Regions from separate parts of the Homo sapiens genome. Here region 1 is linked to region 2. Evidence: fine-mapped expression QTL. A gene starts in region 2. The other region holds a variant in brackets. All regions are shown on one strand. Distances are from middle to middle. Region 1 overlaps BRF1 (BRF1 general transcription factor IIIB subunit). Region 2 holds the start of BTBD6 (BTB domain containing 6).

Region 1 (2,900 bases), 46 kb before region 2:
CAGCCTGGAACTTCTGGGTTCAAGAGATCCTTCCACCTGAGACTCCAGAGTAGCTAGGACTACGGGCATGCACTACCATGCCCAGCTAATTAAAAAAATTTTTTTTTGGTTGGGGAGACAGGGTCTAGGGTCTTGCTCAGTCACCCTGGCTGGAGTGCAGTGGTCATGGCTTACTGCAGTCGTAACCCCCTGGGCTCCAGTGACCCTCCCAGCTCAGCCTCCTGAGTTGCTGGTACTACAGGTGCGCCCTACTATACCCAGCTAATTTTTGTATTTTTCTTGTAGAGATGGGGTTTTGCCATGTTGACCAGGCTCGTCTGGAACTCCTGGGCTCAAGTAATTCTCCCGTCTTGGCCTCTCAAAGTTCTAGGATGACAGGTGTGAGCCAACGCCAATTTTTTTTTTTTTTTTTTTTTTTTTGTAGAGATGTGGTCTTGCTTTGCTGCTCAGGCTGGTCTCGAACTTCTGACCTCAAGGCATCCTCCCACCTTGGCCTCCCAGAGTGCTGGGATTAGCGGCATGAGCTGCTTTGCTCAGCGCCGGATGTTCTGTTGAGGGTTCCTGCTGATGCTTGCGTGGGATATTGGCCTGTAGTTTTTCCTGTAACGTCCTTGTCTTGGGTATCAGGGTTCTGCTCCTTATGGAATGGGTTGGGAAACGTTTCCTCTTCTATTTTCTGGAAGACATTATGTAGAGTTGGTGTTCTTTCTTTCTGAAATGTTTGGTAGAATTCACCAGCGTAGCCATCTGGTCCCAAAGCTTTCTTTCTCAGAAGATTCTGCACTGTGGTTTCGGCTTCTTTCATCACTGAGGTTCTAGTTATATTTAAGATGCTGTGTTTCACCTGGGGTGAATTAGCCGCTTGTGTTGAGGAATTGGTCCACTTGACCTAGTTGTTGAATTTGCCCAGAGAGTTGTTCGAAGCATTCCCTTATCCTTTTGATATCTGCGGGGTCCACAGTGGCCTCCTTTTTCCTTTCAGATGTTGGTGTTTTGTGTCTTTTTTTCCCTTTGTCTCTCTTGCTAGAAGTTGATCCGTGTTTTTGATCTTTTCTAAGAACTGGCTTGGGCTTCATTGAGTTTTCTCTCCTGCTCTTCCCTCCCCATCGTCTTCCATGCTCATACTCCCTGGGTATCTTCCTAGGACTGCTGGGCACAGAGTTTGCAGCTGTGTCACAGTTGCCAAGACTTGGATGTCTGTTGGGATGATAACAACAGTAATGAAAGCAAGTTGTCATGGCAGCAGACGCAGGGTTTCCCGGGCAGGCACAGTGTTAAGTGCATCCGGGCCTGGTGACAGCGCACTGCCCTCACTGTGCCCTGCCGGGGGAGGATGGTGGTGTGGAGCAGTGCAGAGCTGGAAGTCTGTCACCCGGGTGCTGTCAGAACAAGCTCAGAGCCAGCGCTGTCAGGTGGCCCCAAGACGCCTCTGAGCCCAGGCACACTCTCTGGAGGGAGGCGCAGGCCCAGCAACCAACTGTGGTGGTCCTGGGGGAAGTGCTGCGAGGCGGCGGGTTCTTAGCCCCTGGGGACCGGCGCAGGTGGTGCCTGGGCCGAGAGTGGGGAG[G/C]AGAGAGGGGATCTGTTGCTCTGGGCAGCCCCTCTGTCTCCCAGGCAGGCTCTCTAGGTGCCCACTTGGCATCCTTCCTCCCTCGTCACAGTGGTGATCACAGGGGGCTGGAAACCTTGGTGGCTTCTCAGTTTCCCTGGCACACAAGTAGGCCCCAGCCGCCCCTTCCTCCAGCTTCATCTTGAAAGCTGAGCTTTCTCTCTGAGCTGTCGTTTTCTAGTCCCAAGGCCACTGTCTTTCCTAGGTGTTTTGCCTATTAATTGAGAACTAAGCCTGATACAGCTTCGCAGTTTACTCTGGAATATTTAACTAAGGCATCAGGGCAGGTGACCAGAGGCCTCAGGAGAGTCCCCAGAGGGTCCTGACCTTGGAAGCCAGGCCCCACGGGGGAAACCACACTGGTGCTCCAGCGTCCCGGGGCACCCGAGCAGAGACTGTGCAGAGAGAAGGGTGGGTGAGGACTGAGGCTCAGCGTGGCTGGAGGGGCCAGGCAGACGGTGGAGTTGGGGGCCGTTGGCAGTGCCCTGAGGAGGCCGTCTGCTCCACTGAGGCAAGGCGGGGCTTCCCTGTGAGCCCACATCAGTGTCCTGCACTGTGTGTGCCCTGAGGCTTCCCTCTGCCAGCAGGTGATGGTGATGGCGCCCACACACCAGACATCCTGGGCTCCTGCTTGCAGGGGTCCCTCCTCGTCCTGTGCAAGGAGCAGCACACCTCAGTGTCACCAGAACTTGTGGGGGTGGGGAGCGTTTCCCGTAATCACAACTTTCAGTGGCTTCACAGTTAGAACTTCGAAGCTGGGGTGTCCGTGAGTGCTGCTGTTTTCCGTTTGGGGTCACGATGCAGCCGGACCTAATTTGTGACATGGCTGCATGTCACCTGGCGCTGGCCCTGGAGGGGGACATGGGTGGTGGAGTTGCCCTCGCCTGCTGGGAAGCTCCCTCTGCCTCAGAGAAGGATGTGACCGGCCAGCCTCTCCCTGCGGCCTGGGGTTCTGAGCATGCGCCTGGCCTCCTGGCGGGGCTCTAGTCCTGAGGGTGGAAGGCTCCAGGCTTCTGCCTCTGCTCCATGACCCCCAGAACCCTAAGTTGTGGCTGAAGGTGCCTGCTCTTAGGAAACGGGTGAATTCTGTCCCGTTGCCATCTGGGTGAGGGAGGAAGCTGCTGGTTAGCCTGCAGCGTGACACACGTCCTGTTTTCCGTAACCAAATTGTAATCACTACAAAACCAGCTCCTCCGCAGTGGCCTGGGGAAGGGGCCTGGGCTTGGGAAGGGGTCTGGACCTGGGGAGGGGATGTGGGCCTGGGGAAGGGGTGTGGGCCTGGGAAAGGGTTGCT
Region 2 (2,900 bases):
TCCTCTTGGTCAGGGGAAAGTCCAGGCGGGGCTTGTTGGTGGCCGTGTACCACAGGAAGATGCTGTGGGTCTCCTCCAGAGTCAGGATGTCTGACTGGGCAGCGCCGTTGGCAAACTCCTCTAGGGTCATGGTTGGAATTCGGACCAGATAGAGGGCTCGCCCCAGAACATGCCTCTTGTTTCGTGGGGTGATTGGCAGCCCCTGCCTCTTGCACTCCGCCTCGGCCCAGTTCAGGACGGCCTCGAAGACCACCGCCTCTTTGGTGTTGAGGGCCTCCCGAGTGACAATGATCTCCAGCGTCTGCCGGTCTATCTCACAGAAGCCTTCGGACCGTAGGGCCATCTCGGCCTGTGCGTCAATGACCTCCCAGCAGCGCTGCGTCAGCTCGGGCTCCTCAAACAGCCGGCTCTGGGACAGCAGGACGCAGGCGTTCTTGGCTTCCAAACTTGTCTCCAGAAAGTTGACACAGGCTTTTGCCAATGCTGGGACGATGTACTTCTTAGCAGCGTACAGAGTGGCCAGCACCGTGTCGGCTTCCAGATCGATCTCATCACTGTACATGTACCTAGGCGAGGCAGGGCCCGCGTCAGGGGCTGGCTCCCAAGCACCCATCGCGGGGCTGGGCCTGGGAGAGGAGTCCATCAGCTCCTGTGTGCTTCCCTTCAGAAGCCTCCGGAGGCCGCCTAAAACGGACCCACCCGTCCCTCCCCAGTAGAGTGGACTTACTTTAAGAGGATCAGAAAGGCTGCGGGCTCCACGTCTGGAATGTGAATTTCAGATTTGACTTCCGCCAGGTCTCCGTAGAACATGGCATAGAAGACGGAGCTGCCGACAGCCAAGACGTACTGGGAGGAGAAAGCGCCGCCGTGAGCCTGGCTCTCCCGCAGGCTGCGTGTCAGCCACACGGCGGACGGGGCGGACGGGGCACGCGTTCCGAGAGGGGCCGCCGCTACCCACCTTGTGGGCGGGCACCGTCCTGGTCGCCCCCGGGGGCCCCACGACGAAGTGCACGTCGGCCATGAGCTCGTTGTTGAACATGAGCGCGTTCCTGCAAAGGTAGAGGCACGGGCTGGGGGCGTGGGCGCGCGCGGGCGCGGGGGCCGCGGGGCACGGGCTCACCTCTCGCGCAGCGTGGGGCGGCAGCACCGCCAGCCGGGGCTCTCCTGGTGGTTGTTGCCGAGTGTGGGCGGCGCGGGCGCGGGCGGCGGCGGCGCTGGCGCGGGGGCGCTGGGCGGGCTGCGCGGCCCGGCCTTCCTGCCCACGGCGGCGCCGGCGTTGCTGTTGGCTAGGTCCGCGGCCGCGGCGCTGGCGGGAGCGTAGAGTTCCGCCGCCATCTTCGCGGGCGGGGCGGCGGGGGCAGCCTCGGCGCCTGTGGACGCCGCGCCCCGCGCCCTCGCGCCGCGCCGGGGCCTCGGGAGCGGCTCTGCAAGCAAAAGCAAGGAGGTCAGGCACTGAGCGACGCGGCCGTGCAGGCAGGCTAGGGGCAGCAGCATGGGCGGCGGCGGCGCTGTGACCCGCGGGGCTGCCACCCGCTCCCCTGCCACCCCCGCCCCTGCGACCCTGCCCGAGCCCAGCCTAGCGCAGCCCGGCCAGGCCCGGCCGCGGGGGGCGCCGTCCCGCCCGCCCGCCCGCCCGAGCCCGTACCCGCCGCGGCGCCGGTGCGTCACGCTGCGTCAGGGCCGCGCCCCGCGCGACGTCGCTGCCTCGCGGCCCCGCCCCCAGGCCCGACATCCTCGAAGCTGCTCGAGCTTCTGCCCAGCAACCGGCGCGAGCCGCGCGCTGTGCAGAGGTAGCCGTGGAAGGCGGCTCCCGGCGCTGGCAGGCGGCCGCCCCCAGACCCGCAGTGCCATGCGCAGGTGCTTGCGCCCGTTCTTCAGTTAGCGATCTTTTGGTTAGGAACGCAGGTGGACCTGCTTGTTTGGCCATTTGCATTCCGGAGTCTGCCTCTGGCCGCGGCCTGTGGGATGGTCGTTGGGCTTCCTCGTTCGTTCAGATGCTTCGCGATTTAGCTTGCTACGGACGCCAGCAGCCAGCGCTTGCAGAGAGCGCGGTCCACTCTGCTCTGAGGGCTTTACAGGGGCAGGCGCTGCTATTTCCCGGCATTTTCCTCGAGGAAATAGGCACAGAGAGGTTAGTCGCGCGCTGAAGGTCACACAGCCGGCGGGTGGGCAAGTCAGGATCTGGCCCTGGGCCTGCAGCCCTGGAGCTTGGGCCCCAGGGCGCGCCCTGCCTCTGTGGCTCTGCCTGTGGATCGCAGTCGCAGGCTCGCTCCTTGTGGGGCCTCTAGCCTCCCGGCCTGGGGCTAATCCTGGGAGGTGCGTGGCATGGGGCACTGGCTTTGCTGATGAGGAGACCAGACTTCAGAGGCCGTGTCACCTGGCCTGGGCCGCACAGCTGGTGCATGCCAAGCTCGCGTGCAGACGAAGCTCCAGAGGCCTGGCTGTCAGGAGGGTTCCTCCCCGAGGACACACACGCAACCTCCTGGACCGCCAGGCTTTAGACTTTTAAAACTTCCATATGCAGGAAACCCCACAGGACGCAGCCAGCATCTCGGGTCATGGGTGCACCTGTCACCGCAGTCCTGGGCTAAACAGTGAACAGGAGCTCTGTGTCTCTGTGGTCGTTACAGTTGTAGTGAATGTTCCCTGGGAGAGTCCTCTTCAGAAGATATTTGCGGTATTTTCAACAAAGGACTCTCCAGGATGGAGGAGCAACTACAAGTCAGGAAGGAAAAGGCTGACAACCCAGTTTTTTAAAAAACGGGCAAAGGACGTGAACAGACACCATGCAATGGCCCAGAGTGCACAAATCATCATTTCTCCCAGGAATGGGGTGCCCGAGCCCCCAGGCGGCTGAACTTGAGACTTGTCACGTAGTGTTGGTGGAATGCAGAGCAGCT

What was found. PIP is the estimated chance that this variant, and not a neighbour inherited with it, causes the effect.
Region 1: its variant is fine-mapped to the expression of BTBD6 in whole blood (TOPMed, PIP above 0.99).

What each region holds. Positions count from the first base shown.
Region 1 is chr14:105,292,824-105,295,723 of GRCh38, reverse strand. All of the region lies in intron 1 of BRF1 (BRF1 general transcription factor IIIB subunit), which reads left to right. Among named protein-coding and RNA genes, the nearest start is that of BRF1, 6.7 kb to the left of the region's middle. RefSeq lists enhancers at 1,462-1,591, 2,232-2,351, 2,502-2,651. The variant G/C (reference allele first, on the strand shown) is at 1,568.
Region 2 is chr14:105,247,306-105,250,205 of GRCh38, reverse strand. BTBD6 (BTB domain containing 6) reads right to left here and starts at 1,673. Exons shown (of 4, transcript NM_001387567.1): 1 at 1,121-1,673; 2 at 959-1,049; 3 at 728-846; 4 at 1-566. The coding sequence starts at 1,494. All of the region lies in intron 5 of BRF1 (BRF1 general transcription factor IIIB subunit), which reads left to right. RefSeq lists enhancers at 1-465, 1,257-2,047 and silencers at 1,072-1,121, 1,322-1,881.